2 separate regions of the Homo sapiens genome follow, and region 1 is linked to region 2. The links come from fine-mapping of genetic effects on plasma protein levels. Region 2 holds a variant in brackets. A gene starts in the other region. All regions are shown on their reverse strands.

Region 1 (8,338 bases), not on the chromosome of region 2:
CAGTTAGAGACCTCATGGTGGGGGATAGTTCATACTTGCTTCTCTGACTCATCTCATCACAAAATTATTGTCACTAGTACACAGTCCCCACAACAATCCTCTGTCTAGTTATGTCAAGATTAGCACTTACAAGTTCAAAATAGCATCTGACGTGACTTTCTATTTACAGAAGGGCACATGGGATGTGTTAATAACACCCTCCTTAGGGCTTTGGATGCTGAGGACAGGTCTAACAGCCAAGCTCTGAAGGGGTAGGCAGCCCTGATATTTATCTGCTGATTATCACACTAGGGTCCTCAAAAGGGAATTCCAGAAGCTTCTTTTGATAAAACCTCAAAATCATCAGATCTGCTGCTGCCAGAACCAAAAATAGCTCGGCCTAGTTGGGAAAGTATTGGTCTGGGAGTTGGATGGTGTGGGGGCCCTCGTTTTGTACTAACGGGCTTAGTGTCCTTGTAGGCACTGTGAGCGTCTCTGCATGTCCGTGCTGTCTTCTATGCATTGTGGATGATGGAGCAGCACCCCTGTCATCACGGGGTAGATAGGTGTCCCGAAAACGATGACAGCCATGAAAAGACTGGGTGAACACCAAGCCTCAATCCCAGGAGGGAGAGAAAGGGAGAGCCGTGATAAGAAAGCAGCCGCACTAGAAATGCTTCCCAGTTGCCCTTGTGGCAGGAATAAAATCCTCCTACACTCAGGTGTTTGGTGGTCAAGGAGTGGCCCTTTGGTGAGGAGGTAACTCACCAAAGGTTTCTGCTGCCTTTTAACTTGCTGTAAATTAGTCAGCCGTGCTCTCTCCTCATCTGCTTGACCTATGACTCTGTGGCCCATGACTGCCTCATTCCTGGTTAATGCAAGGAAGGGCCCAGTAGCAGCCAGAAATGTGAATGGCTATTCTCAAACATGGGAGGTTACCTACACCAGGATAAATAAAATGGTTGCCTTTCCTCTTTTACAATAGTCATTTTGTTCTTCTTTAAGATTTGAAAATATAGTAAGGCAGGTCCCAGAATAACATTGTTTCTTTCAATGTTGCTTTGTCATAATATTGGTGAGAAAAAAAAAAAAATCAATTCCTGGCTGGAGCCACTGTCTGTGTGGAATTTGCAAGTTCTCACGTGAGTTTTCTCCAGGTACTTCAGTTTCCTCCCACATCTCAAAGATATCCTCGTTCCTTGGTACGTCTGCATGGTTCCAGTCTTAGTGAGTGTGGCTGTGTGTGTGTGAGCGTGCCCGGCAATGGAATGGCCTTCTGTCCAGGGTCCCCAGCTTGAACTCTGAGCTGCCAGTATGGGCTCCAGCCACCCAACACTCTGAGTTGGAAAAAGCAGGTTGGAAAATGATTGAATAATGAACAAAAATTGTTATCAAATAAAAATTCATGAAGTCTACAATAATCATACAGGCATATGACAATAAATGATGCTGCATGGAAGCGTTCAGCGAGCCCATCATATTTGTTGTTGGGTTTTTTTGAATTGCATGGTGGTAGGAGGTGCTTATAATTTTTGCTTTAAAACATTTATTCCTTGCTTTAACCCACCACCACTATGACTGCTGTCACTCACTGATTCACCAAACATTGGGTAAATAATTCTCACACTTGTTTCTATTAATCTTTCTGAAATGTACGTATAGCTCACATTTATTTTCATATTTACCATTAGAAGCATTTTGGTCTTTCTTTAGAAGTTTAGTGATGTTTTTGTGACCAGAACTATGTCATAGGAATTTAAATAAATCTTAATTATGTCAATTAGCCTAAGGTAAAATTGGCTTCATTGTATGTTGTTTTGCTTAAAGTTGCAGTTTCCAAGAACATATAGATAATGTTAAATGGGGGCTTATTGTATAATTAAATAGTATTTATTGAGCTCTGACTACATGCTAGTCTGTGTTAATGTTTATTTATATTCTTTCATTTACTACCCATAATAATTCAGTGAAAATGTTACCAGAAAGAGGTTTCAATCCAGACCCCAAGAGAAGGTTCTTGGATCTCACGCAACAAAAAATTCCAGGCGAGTCCATAGAGTTAAGTAAAGCCAAGTTTATTCAGAAAGTAAAGGAATAAAAGAATGGCTACTCCACAGGCAGAGCAGCCTCAAGGGCTGCTGATTGCCTATCTTTATGGTTATTTCTTGATTATATGCTAAACAGGGTGTGGATTATTCATGAGTTTCCTGGGAAAGGAGTCGGCAATTTCTGGGAACCTAAGGGTTCCTCCCTTTTTTAGACCATATAGGGTAACTCCCTGATGTTGCCATGGCATTTATAAGCTGTCATGGTGCTGGTGGGAGTGTATTTTAGCATGTTAGCGCAATATAATTCACGTATAATGAGCAGTGAGTCCGACCAAGGTCACCACCTTGGTTTTGTTGGGATTTGACTGCCTTCTTTACCGCATGCTGTTTTATCAGCAAGGTCTTTGTGACCTGTATCTTATGCTGATCTCCTGTCTCATCCAGTGAGTTAGAATGCCTAACCTCCTCCAAACGCAGCCCAGTAGGTCTCAGTCCTATTTTACCCAGCCCCTATTCAAGATGGAATTGCTCTAGTTGAAATGCCTATGACAAAAAGGCATCATTATGCCCATTTTACAGGGAAGGAAACTTTCAGAGGGACTAAGTTACATGCCAAGCTCCCAAAAGTACTACATGCAGACCCAGGATTTGAACCCTGTTTTATTTTATACAAAACCCATCCCCCTGCATATTATGCCATTTTGTCTCAAAAACAATAATAGTACCCACAGAAAGAAGATGAAGAGGAAGAGCTGGGAGCACATATTTAACCAAAAATAAGAAGTCCATAGGTCTTGGACGAATACACTCCTACCAGCACTGGGCAGGCAGACAGAAGAGGGCCCAGATTAAATTAAAAAGTGTGTGATTAATTGGCAGCTAGTAAAGAACAAGATGAAATCCTTCAGAAAACAAATATATGAGTTTTGGTGAGCTGAAGAGATCTGTATCTGAAGTCAGAATATTTAATATACATCATATATAATTAATATTATTATTATTTAATGTTCTTTTAAAGGGTGACTGGGTCAGTATAACTGAGCATAATCTGTTTTGTCTCAGAGTCTGGCTATCTTTTTTCCCAATATCAGTCTCTCAACTAAACCAAACATGTTTTTAACTTCTCCCACTTAATTTAGTAGGTTAACAAGTCTATGTAAAAGAAGAGTATCATAATTTAGCTTAATAGTCCCTTGCAATACTATTTTAATATTTTAAAATCAAAATATCACTTTAAAACCTATAGGAATTATTTTTGCTTCCTTTGGCTTTGGTTCTTTTGTATCATACAATTTTATCATTTAAAATCAAAGATCTTACCATCAGATTTACCTGGGCTATAGTAGTAATTTTACCACTTACCCATGGCCAAATGTGTATGACAATCCCTACTTCATGAGATTATCATAAAGATGAAATTAAATGAGACAATTTTTTTTTTTTTTTTTTTTTTTTTTTTTGAGCTGGAGTCTTTCTCTGTCACCCAGGCTGGAGTCAGTGGTAAAATCTCTGCTCACTGCAACCTCCACCTCCCGGGTTCAAGCAATTCTCCTGCCTCAGCCTCCCGAGTAGCTGGGACTACAGGCGCCTCCCACCATGCCTGGCTAAATTTTGTATTTTTAGTAGAGACGGGGTTTCACCATGTTGGCCAGGCTGGTATCGAACTCCTGACCTCATGATCCACCCACCTTGGCCTCCCAAAGTGCTGGGATTACAGGCATGAGCCACCACGCCCAGCCCTAAATGAGACAATTTATGTGATTTTTTTGCACATGGGAGGCACTCAAAAAATAAAAGTGTCCATTTCCTTCACCTCTGAATTCATACTCTTTATTTTAAAGTTGCAGTGTCGTGTATACAGATGTAAAAGAGAGCTTTGGAATCAGTGAGGCCTGGATCCAAACCCCATCTCTGCTTTCCACCAGCTGTGCGACCTTGGGCAAATGTCCTAGTCTCTCTGAACCTCACTTTCTTCTTCTGTAAAAGGAAAATAATGGTACTACTTTGCAGGAATGCTGAGGTTTACAAATAGCATATGCCAAGTATCTGGCACATGTTAGGTGCAAAATAAATGGTTTTGCTTACACTTAGATAAAATGACTTTTGTTCTATGAAATGGAGCTAATGATTAGGTTTTATGGAAAGGCTTTATTTATTTATTTTATGATTAGGTTATACAAAAATGCTTTATTTCACCTGGAAGCTTACCTGGGTGTCATTTTATGGTTGTCTCATCTGACCATTTTTAAACCATGGTTGGATCTTGTGGAAATGTTTAGAGCTCGTTATGAAGCCAATGTAAACAAAGGTACCTATCAGCTGTTGCAGACACTATCCCATCCACAGGGGCACCCCTGACATAGCTGTAGCCCAACTTCACCCTGAAGTCTTGGAAAGGTTACATGATTCAGACAGATGTAGTAGGCATGAGATTACAGGCCAAGAGGAAGAGGCCGGGGCTGTAGGCAGTATACTTGACAGGCTCATACACTGCAAGCCTTGTTCCGGGCCCCTTACAAAGCACCTCTTTAGGATGAAAACAAGATGGTCTTTGTAAATAAAAGTTCATGCATTTGGGTAATGAAGTCATTTTCCAGCGCTGCAGTGAAAGATATTCTTCTCCCAAGCCCTCTGGGTGAGGACTGGAGGGAGGAAGAGGGGTGGCCAGTGAATCTGAAGAGAAGATATTAGCACAAAGAGTGCAACAGTCTATCCCCCAGAAAAAACCCGAGAAACCTTGCTCAAGAAAGTGGGCACCCTGACCCTCTGCCTTCAGAGATCATCTACCTTTGGTTCCTGCCCTGGAATCCCTTTTCCACCCACTTTCCTGCAAACTAGCGGGGGCCACATAAAATATCTATGTAAATATAGATAAGACATCCGGTACCTTGACTACATAAATAAGAGTGGTGAGGAAGCGTCACAAAAGCTGAATATTCTTCTGGAGCCCTTGGAGGGGCTCCAAACTGAGAGGGGAGGGAAGACCGCAGGGAAAGGCGGACCTCAGTGTCTGAAAAGCCAGCTTAGAGTGGGAGGGCCTGGGAGTAGAAGGTAAAAAGGGAGTGGTGAGAATGAATGTGAGAAGGAAGCCAGGACAGCGCAGTCCCCAGTCCCGAACGGCCAGGGAGAGGAGGTGGCCTAGCGCTGGCGGGGCTCACCCCAATCCGTCTGCCTTTTGATGCCGTACTGTAAGCTCCGTCCATCTGTAGGTTCTTGAGCCAGAACCTCTGCGGGAAGGAGAAAAAGTGAAAGAGGGAGAGGGAGAGGGAGAGAGAGGGGGAGAAGGGGAGAGAGAGAGAGGGAGAGAGAGGCTGGAACTCTCCCTTACTCTCGCACTTTCCCTTTATTTCCTAAGCTGCTGGTTGCGCAGCCACCTCGGGATACTGCACACGGAGAGGAGGGAAAATAAGCGAGGCACCGCCGCACCACGCGGGAGACCTACGGAGACCCACAGCGCCCGAGCCCTGGAAGAGCACTACTGGATGTCAGCGGAGAAATGGCTTTGAGCTCAGCCTGGCGCTCGGTTCTGCCTCTGTGGCTCCTCTGGAGCGCTGCCTGCTCCCGCGCCGCGTCCGGGGACGACAACGCTTTTCCTTTTGACATTGAAGGGAGCTCAGCGGTTGGCAGGCAAGACCCGCCTGAGACGAGCGAACCCCGCGTGGCTCTGGGACGCCTGCCGCCTGCGGCCGAGGTACAGTGTCCCTGCCATTGCCACCCTGCTGGGGCACCTGCGCCCCCGCGGGCTGTGCCACACTCGTCCTTCTCTCTCTCTCCGCCTCTTTCCTCTCCCCAGTGCCTTGAGAGTTTCACCTGGGCTAGGTCAGTTCGGAAACTTGAAATAAAGAGTTTTCCTTTGTAAGTTGCATTTGGATGTTGAGAGTTGAAAGTTGAGGCTTCGGAATGTGTCTGCTCAAAGGGGTGAGAGTGCATGTGTTGGTGCTCTGAGTTCATCCGCTAGACTCTCACCGGGGACTGCAGCAGCACATCGGTGACTTCTGCCACTTGCGTGTCCCAGTAGTCATTTTGTCAAGCCACGGCACTTAACGTGTGTGCCCTGTCACTGGCTTCCTGCTCCTCTGTGCTGTTAGGACAGTGGGAACACTACTGCAGGATCTTTTTGTCTCATATTAGACAAGAAGTCTTCTGCAGCAGGGAAGGTGAGGGGGTGAGTGAGAGTGGCTGGTCATGAAAGGAGCTGTTAGACAACTGCTGAGAGGGTATCTTAAGTAGAAACGAGCCATTGTATTCCAGAAACAAGATGTTTCCATTAAAATCAAGCCTCAGGATATGCTATTGATAATATGTTTATTCAAAGAGCTGCTGTTTGAATACCTTACAATAGCTTTTAAGTTGGAAACAAAACCAGAATGTAGAGGTCTGGTAAAGGAGAATGAATCCAGAACAAGTGATTTAAGAACCCCTGAACTGAAACAGACAACAGCATGCCCATTGCATGGGACATGCTAAGAGGGAGGAAAATAAAGTCACCTAAGTTCATGGGAAAGGAAGGAGCAATTGACCTAGCAAAACAAACACCACACTCTATAGCTATGGTTACAGCAACTGTACAACTAAAACAGTTATGTGGATTGACACCATTTCTAACATCACTGATGCATGGATTATTGCTATGAATTCTGTTAATTGTTAGTACAATTATAGTTATTAATTATTGATGATTAAAAATAAGGTGCATGAACATGGTCCTTCTTCAGAGTAAGCCCTACCCACATTGCCCCAAAAAAGAGAGTGGACAGGGTCAGAATATGCCAACCTCTCACTGTGGTATAAAATGTAGCCTCCATGAAAAAGAGGGAGCATGGCTTCTGGTCAACTTCATACCCAGAAACTTGGGGAGAAGCCAGACCAGGAGGGACTTCATGCAATGGGAAGGCTTTGCTTCTCTACAGGCTTGGAATTAACCCCAGGGAAGCATTATCTCCACCTGTTGCTTTGAGCACGTAAAGTCCCTGAATGAAATGCTTAATTTTACTTAAGAGTAAAATTGGCAGATAAATTGCAGGACACTCAAATGTGAATTTCAGATAAATAATGAATGAATTTTGATCACATCCCAAATACTGCAGAGGACATATTTATATTAAAATTTGTTTTCATTGTTCATCTGAAATTCAAATTTATCCGGGCATCCTGTATTTGTATCTGTTAGGTCTAAAGAGACAAGCCATATACAACTGTTTTTTGTAACTCTCATCCCACAAAAAAAATAGGAAAGTAATTTTTTGAGTTTTAGAGAACCTTAAAATTAATGCTAAGACCCTAGGAAATTTCTTATGTGCTCATATGTTTGGTGAAATAATAGGAAGGCAGCACAGCAAAGTGTTTCAGATTGCAGGTTTTCAGTCTGATGGTCCCAAGTTGAAATTTCAAGCTCTTTGACCTTGGTCAAGTTACAGATCCCCAGACTGCAGATAAACTGATACTGACAGAATTTATTGATGCCTGCTTCATACCTCATACTTTTATTGTAATGAAATTAGATAAAATAGAGTGCTTAGCATAGTGCTTGACATAGTATAAATGCCCTATATATGCCAAGAGTTGTTACAATTGTTACTATAAAAAATGTGGATGATGATCAGATTAAAAGAAACCCTTATTTGAGAATATTCCTTAGAACCTTATGTTTATGGTTTTCTTTTACTTAATATTATTATATCTGTTTATCTATATTCTTCCAGCTGGAAAAAAAATGTCACGTAGTGAATTAAATTTGTAGTAATGTCAGAGTCTAATAGGTTCAGAATGCCAGTGGAGGCCTTCAGTTTTGAAAAACAGAAAGAAGATATTAGTCATTCCAGGAAGGTCAAAGTATATGGTGTAGAAAGGGTGAGATTGAGGTAATTATGTTCCCACTGCATAGTTTCACATAATGCCTCCAGTTAGCCTGCGGTCCCATGGCGATCCCAACGCCCCACCATCAGGTTTCCCATGCTCTTTATAGCAGTAACCAGACCTTAAACCAAATACATTCCGGAGACTTAATAACATGGTACAAACACTTTACTGGGTTGGCTCAGGAGACTGTATTTGTGTATATGTGGAGAGAGAAAGAGAACACGGACACATTATTCATGGGAGAGGTTCAATGTGTGGATGGGAAGATATTCTAAAAATACATTCTCTTTACTTGGATTTATATGAATGGTTATTCTGCAATTCTCCTTCAGAGGGAATGAAGAAAAATATTAAGGCAAGCATGGAGCAGTGGGAGGTGCTTGGCTGAAGGCCTTCCTGAGGTTCTCCTAAGCTCTTCAATAGCCCAGCTTGTGGACTCTCCATCCCTGAGT
Region 2 (8,338 bases):
ACAAGAGCGAAACTCCATCTCAAAAAAAAAAAAAAAAAAAAATCTGGGAGCACAGAGAGCTCTCCTGGTGTTGGGGGACCAACAAGGTGGAATCAAGAGCCACAGACCAGGGCCCAAGTCCCAGCGGTAACTGAGTATTATGGGGGTATTAACGCCCACCGCCCACCGCCCAGGATAGGGAGCACAGAGCAGAGAATTCTAAGCATTCAAGCCCTGAAACGCCCACTTCCTCTACCTGAGTCGCTGCTGTCCTCTAGTGTCCACTGGATAAATTGCACAGCACGCTGGCCTGAAGAAGGGGAAGTGGGAGATGCTTTTCCCCCACTTCTGAATCTATCTGATGCTGTGGTTCTCAACCATGCCCACCCATAACTTCCTTTTCATAAAATATATTTTGTATAATTACAGTAATTTTTAAACATTTTAGGCAGATGTATTGAGGTATTGACATATAATAAACTGTGCATATATAGAGATTACAATTTGGTAACATCTGACCCTTGGTATACACCTGAAATCATTATCACAATCAAGATAGTGAAGATATCCGTTCCCACAAAAAGTTTCCTTGTTGCCCTTGGTGATCCTGCTTCCTGCTCTTTCTACCTCCCCACCCCCAAGCAACTACTGATCTGCTCTCTTTTTTTCTTTTCTTTCGTTTTTATTTTATTTATTTATTTTTTTAAGATGGAGTCTTGCTCTGTCTCCCAGGCTGGAGTGCAGTGGCATGATCTTGGCTCACTGCAACCTCCACCTCCTGGGTTCGAGTGATTTTTGTGCCTCAGCCTCCCGAGTAGCTGGGATTACAGGTGCGTGCCAACAGGCCTGGCTAATTTTTATATTTTTAGTAGAGACAGGGTTTCACTTTGTTGACCAGGCTGGTCTCGAACTCCTCACCTCAAGTGATTCGCCCACCTCAGCCTCCTAAAGTGCTGGGATTACAGGTGTGAGCCACTGTACCCTGCCCTGATCTGCTTTCTATCATCATAGGTTAGTTTATATTTTCTAGTGCTTTCTAGAAATGGAATCATACAGTGTGTACTCTTTTTTGTCAAGCTTCTTTCACTCAGTATAATTATTTTGAGTTTTATCCATGTTGTTTTGTGTGGCAATAGTTCATTACTTTTTAAAATTTTAGTTGTAGTTTTTGTGGGTACATAGTAAGTGTATATATTTATGGGGCACCTGAGATGTTTTGATACAGGCATACAATACATAATAAAGACATCATGGAGAATGGGGTATCCATCCCCTCAAGCATTTACCCTTTGTGTTAAATATTTCATGGCAAAGTTATCTTGGGGTAAACACTGCAGCTGCAGGTGCCACCAGTGAGTATTCTCTGGGCAAACAGAAAAAGGGTTAAACAAATCACATTACACATTACTCTAAAATTTGTATCTATGTCTAGCCCTCAGACAAACCATGATGCCTGTTCTTTACATTGGTGGTCACTGAATGCTAGAATTATGAATTTAAAATTAATAAAAATTAATCAAGTTTTCAAAAATCAAAATAAAATGGATTTATTTCAATCATTTTGACGTAAAAATTTGACTAATTCTAATTTGTATGTTGCCTTTTGGTTTAATGGATACTTTTCAATAGTTGAAAAGAAAACTAACTTTTGGGAAAATATTCCTGATAAAATTAAATTTTTTACATAAACATAATTTTGATGAAAATATTAAGATATTTGTACTTTGAATATGATTGTTTTAATCCTTACATGTATTTTCAAATCTTGATAATAATAACATAATTACCGATTTTGCTGAAAGATAAGAAAAATACATTTCATGGAATAGTTTCAGTAATTTATAAATTCCACATCTTTATTACTCATCCCAATATTGTCAGCCCATCAACAGAGCACCCAGACATGCGCAATAAACATGAAATTTCATGATCTTTGACATTTTGCTAACTTTCTGTCATATACAAATCATAGCTTCATATATATTTTAAAATTTTATCCTTTTAAAGGCATATTTGTCAGAGGATGAGGATAGGACATACTTTAACATACATAACATAACATAATCGGCCGGGCGTGGTGGCTCACGCCTGTAATCCTAGCACTTTGGGAGGCCGAGGCAGGCAGATTGCCTGAGCTCAGGAGCTCAAGACCAGCCTGGGCAACAAGGTGAAACCCTGTCGCTACTAAAATACAAAAAAAAATTAGCCAGGCATGGTGGCATGCACCTGTAGTCCCAGCTACTCGGGAGGCTGAGGCAGAATTGCTTGAACCCAGGAGGCAGAGGTTGCAGTGAGCCGAGATCACTCCAGAGTGAGACTCCATCTCTAAAAAAAAAAAAATACAAATCATAGCTTCATACACATTTTAAAATTTTATCCTTTTAAAGGAATATTTGTCAGAGTATGAGGGTAGGACATACTTTAACAGTCTGTTAGTTTAATTTATAACTTGCAAATATTGAGACAGATGGCCTATGGTATCCATCTGTCCTCTTGCCCTGAGCTGACTTGACTCATGGGTCCCAGCTTGGGTTTTCCAGTTGTTTGAATGGGTAGGAATCTACCCATGTTTGCCACAGCTAGGGGGCTGGAGGTGGAGGGTCCCTCTGGACCCCCTTTGAATGACCATAACTTCAGAGCCTATCAAAGAGACTAAATATTCTGCAGCCCAGCAGGAGGTCCCAACCCAGCCTCCAGAGGGAGTGGAAACTTCTGCAAACCAACAGGATTAAACTGAGGCTCATGTGACTTCCTTGGGAGACCATCCTCTCTCAGATCTTAAGTTTCAGAGATCAAATTTCCAAGCATGTGGTCCTTGGCTATGGAAACCTTTCCTCCTGCCCAGGACTCTCACTCTACAGAGACGAGTTCATTCAGGTCATCTGAAGCCCATGTAGATTTTTGGCCACAAATGGTTTCTCATAAAGTGGTGCCCCCAGCATGTTCAGCCTCCCCTCTGCCCCTGCAGGCCTTCTATCCCAGGGTGCCATGCACTGCTGCCCTGCTGGGAAGAGAAGTCTGGAGGGGCACGGGGCAGCACTGCCCACTCAGAAGCCCCTTGTCCTATTTTTCTGTCAGATCCTGCCTCCCTGTTTCAGAGGGAAGAGTGGGCCGTCAGTAACAAGATGTTTTCTCCCTTGCCTCTTTTTTGCTACAGTTGGTAGAAATTTCTCCCAGACTTCCTCGGTGACTAATGATGTTGGGATGTTGTGGCCTTCACAGGGAGGGGACAGGGTGTCAGGTCACCATATCACAGATGGTTGACCCCATGCCGACTACAACTGGCTCTTTTGGCTGCAAGTGACAGAAACCCAACTCAAACTTGTTCTGTGAGTGGGGACATTTATTGAATCTCAGAATTGAAGGGAGGGGAAGGGTGTGTTTGGGTCCCAGAAAGGGTGGACCCTGGGGCTGGAATCCCGTCCAGACTCCGCTCCCTCTTCACGGAGGCTTAGCACCTTAGATGGGCTATGTCCTCTGGCCCTGCACACATGGGCTTCCTGTTGGAAGCTGAGCAGCTCCACCAGCTTCCGTTTACAAATATAGTGACTGGCACACAAGCATTCCTATGCTTATGGGGGGTGGTGGGGGGCAGGACCCCAGGACTGGCAGCCCCCACTAAAACCCCATGAGGGAAGGAGTCCCCCCAAAGGTGGTGCTGTTCCCAAAAATGAAGGAAACAGCCAGTGCTCTCCACCCTATCCCACCCGGCCATTTTCCTCACAGATGTCACCTGTCCTCCCAGGCCCAGCTGCTACTTCTGCCTGATGCTTGGCCAATTTGCCTGGTTAAAACCAGTGTATTTCCAGGAGATGGATGACGTCACAGAACTGGGGTTCCAGAAGCCTTCTTTAGAACATGGAGAGCTGTTAGTTGGGCAGGGCTGAAGTGTATGTGGTGAGGAAGAAGAGGCTCCTACTGTAGACAGCCTTGTTCTACAGATCCTCCCAGAAATCTCTGGGCCAGGTGGAACCCAGGGTCAGAGAGGGATGGGAGAGAGGTAAGCTGTGGAAGGGGTGGGAACATACCTTCTGGAGCCACTGTCTTCCTTGAGGGGACCCTGAGAGGGGGCTTAATGGGCAGGGATGGAGCTTCCTGCTTCCCGAGGCTCAGTGACATCTATCTCTGAGGGACCCTCCTGAGTCAGTGTGGAGTAGGTTGTTTGTCTGAAATTCTAATTTAACAGGGCATCTTGTAAATTTTATTTGCCAAATCTGTCAGCTCTGGGGGTAGAATGATGGGAGAAGCAAAAGAATGGCCCGAAGCTCAGGCTGGTGTGGAACGAGTCTCAGATAGAACAAGAGACAGAAGCAGCCTCATTGTCTGAAGTAAATACCAAGGTTCGTGGTCTCACGTTTAAGGAGATCGAGGTCGCAGACACACACGCACACAGAGTGAGTTTGGAGCAGGAGTTTAATAGGCAAAAGGAAAGAACAGCTCTCTGTCACAGACAGAGGTCCCAGGCAGGTTGCCAGGTGGTAGTAAAAACGTCAGGGTTTTATAAATGGGCTAGAGAGGGGCATTCATGAGGAGGGGATGTCTTATCCTCCTAGAGCCCGATGGTTCAGTTGGGACCAGGTGTGCTATCTGTATAGAGCAGAGTTTTTAATAGGCTCTCACCCCATTCCCGACCACATCAACTTTTAGTCTGTGTCTCTTTGTCTTGCTTATCTGGGAGCGAGAGTTTCTGTGTCTATTCCCACACATCTTGCAGCTGTAGGCATACCCATCGATTCTGCTTTTAGCTTCCCTATCTTAGCG[C/T]GCCTAAAGAGAAAGGAATGTAGTTATTAAGGCCCACTGTTTTACTGGGGCCCATTGTATAAGTGTGAAGTTTGGTGATTACCCAGGAGACTTCCCCCATCCTTCTGTGCCTGAGCTCTTATCTGTTTTTACCCTTTGCTCTTTCAGGCTGGTTGTTGTTAGAAGAAAAGTGATTTCCTTGAACTGCGTGAGGTTAGAAAGGGAGCTATCTTTGAGCTGCTTTGCGTTAAAAGGAAAGTTTTCTGCTGGGGATTCACTTTACCCTAACTGTCTACCTAAGTAGTTTCTTTCTGCCTCCTATAACAAGACCAGAGAAGAAACAAGCCCACCAGGGTAGCCATCTTGTCCAAGCAGAAGCCGCCTGACACTTGAAGGCGGCGGGTGGAAGAACTCAGGCTTCTGCCCCCTCAGCAGCATATACCTAAGTTAAGGGGAAAAACACACCTTCCCTCAGTGACAGAAATAGTCCCAGGTTTTCAGATTTATTGGAAGTATTATTTCTTTTTAGTGTAGAGATGAGGTCTTGCTGTTTCCCAGGTTGGTCTCAAACTCCTGGCCTAAGCAATTCTCTCACCTCAGCCTCCCAAAGTGCTCGGATTACAGGCATGAGCCACCATGCCTGGCCAGTCTTTCAGTTTTCATGGCATTGGCCATTTTGAAGAATACAGGCCAGTTATCTTACAGATTTTCAGTGAGTTTGGCTTTGATGTTTCCTCAGGATTAGACATAGCCTATGCATCCCTGGACGGAATATTGCATAAGCGATGTGTCCTCCTTGGGAATCACATCTGGAGGCACACAATGTCCCTCTGTCCGTCTTTGGAGATGTTAATTTTGATTGCAAGGTCAAAATACTGTCTGGTTATCCACTGTATACTGTTTTGTTTTTTCTTTCTGTGCAACTAATAAGCAATCTGTGGGGAGACCCTATAAGATCATGATATATCCAGTTCTTCAGCATTCTTCCCACCACCTCAGATTTAGCATGCAATGATGATTTGTTCTCAAACCAATCTATGATAGTTGCAAAATGGTGATTATTTTTCAACTCCATGACTTCCTCCACACTTATCGGTTGGCCTTTTATTGTCAGGAAGAGGTCTCTGCTTCAGCTCCACACAATGTATCTTTTTGTCAATTTATTATTATTATGGGCTCATGGATTCCTATTGCATTTAATGTATAATCTGTTACTGTCATTTATTCTGATGGTCTAATTGTCCCAGATTGGGTTGGAAACCATTATGCAATGGTTTCTTAGATATGACACCAAAAGCACACCCAACAAAAGGACAAATAGATAACTTGCACATCATCAAAATTAAAAACTTTGGGGCTTCAAAGAACACCACCAAGAAAGTGAAAGGCAACCCACAGAATGGGAAAAAAATATCTGCCATATATCTGATGCTGGTCTAGTATACAGAATATATAAAGAACTCTTCCCACTCAGTAATAAAAAGACAACTCAATTTGAAACTGGCCAAAGGTTCTGAATAGACATTTTCCCAAAGATATACAGTGGCCAATAAGCACATAAAAAGATGATCAACATCCGTAGCCATCTGGGAAACGCAAATTAAAACAACAGGGTGATACCAGTTCATACCCACTAGGATACCTTTTGTCAAGAAGACAGATAATAACAAGTGTTGGTGAGGATGTAGAGAAATTGGAACCTTCATACACTGCTGATGGGAATGCAAAATGGTGCAGCCACTTTGGAAATCTGGTAGGCCTCATAAGCTTAAGCCTAGGGTTACCCCATGACCCAGCAACTCTACTCCAAAGAAATAAAAACATATATCCACACAAAAACTAGTATGTTAATGTTCATAGTAGGATTATTCATGATAGCCAAAAATAGAAACAACCCAAATGTCCATCAACTAATGAATGGATAGACGAAGTATGGTGTATTCATACAATGAAATATTATTCAACCATAGAAAGGAATGAAGTATCATTACATGCTCCAACCTGAATGAAACTTCAAAACATTATGCTAAGTGAAAGAAGCCAGATACAAAATGCCATATTTTCTGTAACTCCGTGTGTATGAAATGTCCAGAAGAGGCAAATCCATAGAGACAGAAAGTAGATTAGTGGTTGCCAGGGGTTGGGAGGTGGGGGATGGGCAGTGACTGCTAAATGGGTGCAGGGTTTTGTTTTGGATTGATGAAAATATTCTAAAATCAAGTGAGGTAGTAGTTGTACAACTCTGCAAACATACTGAAAACCACTGAATTGTACACTTTAACTGAATTAATTGTATGATACATGAATTATATCTCAATAATGCTGTTACCAAAAAACATCGTTTCAGATCTGGCCAGTCGGTGCCCCTTTGAGCTAGCTCTTGTGTCCATTTGACATGCCCCAATACATATTTCGAGCACTTTTTAAATTTCTTGTACAGCAAGATAATCCAGACATCTCATAACCCTTTCCTGCTCCAGCCTGGGAATCAGCCATATTTCCTAGAGTCCTGGTTCCCTTTTGTGTGGAATGTGAACCAAGATCTGGGCATTATTTCATTTAATCATCAAAACAACCCTTTTAGGTAGGTATTAGCATATCTTCATTTTACAAATGAGGCCCAGAAAGGTTGAGTATGTTGCCCAAAGTCACATAGCACCCCAGGATTTGAAAGCAGGCAGTGTGAATCTAGGGCCCTTGCTATTCAACACACACACACGCGCACACACACATACACAATGTGAAAGTGAAGGTTACGTCTACAGCCAGCCCACCAAGAATTGTACCAGGCAGGGTATGCCCTTGGGAAAAATCATGTGTCATGTGTCTGGGGGAGTGGGGTTGTGGGGAGATTAGCACCCAGTGTCCTGGCCCTCTTTCTAAAAGCACATGCTCAGATACACACACACATATGCTGGTGAAGATAGTCTTCAGTAATCTCCTTTGCCAACCTCACTCCCCATCCCAATACCCAAATACTACCCATAGCTGGGTGCCCATATAAGAGGACCTATGGATGAAATGAGATTGGCCAGGTGTGGTGGCTCACACCTGTAATCCCAGCACTTTGGGAGGCTGAGATGGGAGGATCACTTGAGGCCAGGAGTTCAAGACCAGCCTGGTCAACAGAGTGAGACCCCCATCTCTAAAAAATAAAAAAATAAAAAACAAACAACAACAAAGAAAGATTGGCCTTGGTTTTTGAATGTTGAAGCTCAGAAGTGGGTATATGGAGGTTCATGATACTATTCTCTTTCCTTTTTTAAAGGTTTAATTTTCCATGATAAATAAAAATCTATAAAATAATAAACAAGAGAAAAGAGATTGGAAACAGCCAGGTTGGAGCAGTGAGTGAGTAAGGAAACCTGGCTGCCCTCTCCAGATTCCCCAGGCTCTCAGAGAAGATCAGCAGAAAGTCTGCAAGACCCTAAGAACCATCAGCCCTCAGCTGCACCTCCTCCCCTCCAAGGATGACAAAGGCGCTACTCATCTATTTGGTCAGCAGCTTTCTTGCCCTAAATCAGGCCAGCCTCATCAGTCGCTGTGACTTGGCCCAGGTGCTGCAGCTGGAGGACTTGGATGGGTTTGAGGGTTACTCCCTGAGTGACTGTGAGTACCA

Alleles and levels. Positions count from the first base shown, and alleles are read on the strand shown. Strength reflects both the effect of a copy and how common the allele is.
For the plasma level of the protein whose gene starts at base 5,107 in region 1, allele T in region 2 goes with a higher level than allele C (strong association).

The links. PIP is the chance, under the fine-mapping model, that this variant and not a neighbour inherited with it causes the effect. The UK Biobank Pharma Proteomics Project read protein levels with antibody pairs (Olink). The fine-mapping took linkage between variants from a reference panel, not from the people measured, so its PIPs are less certain.
Region 1: LAMA4 starts here. The variant in region 2 is fine-mapped to the plasma level of the LAMA4 protein (UK Biobank, PIP above 0.99).

What each region holds. Positions count from the first base shown.
Region 1 is chr6:112,251,336-112,259,673 of GRCh38, reverse strand. It overlaps LAMA4 (laminin subunit alpha 4), which reads left to right and starts at 5,107. Exons shown (of 39, transcript NM_001105206.3): 1 at 5,107-5,215; 2 at 5,383-5,718. The coding sequence starts at 5,524. All of the region lies in intron 2 of LAMA4-AS1 (LAMA4 antisense RNA 1), which reads right to left.
Region 2 is chr17:35,939,208-35,947,545 of GRCh38, reverse strand. LYZL6 (lysozyme like 6) reads left to right here and starts at 3,833. Exons shown (of 5, transcript NM_020426.4): 1 at 3,833-3,979; 2 at 7,988-8,328. The coding sequence starts at 8,190. The variant C/T (reference allele first, on the strand shown) is at 4,741.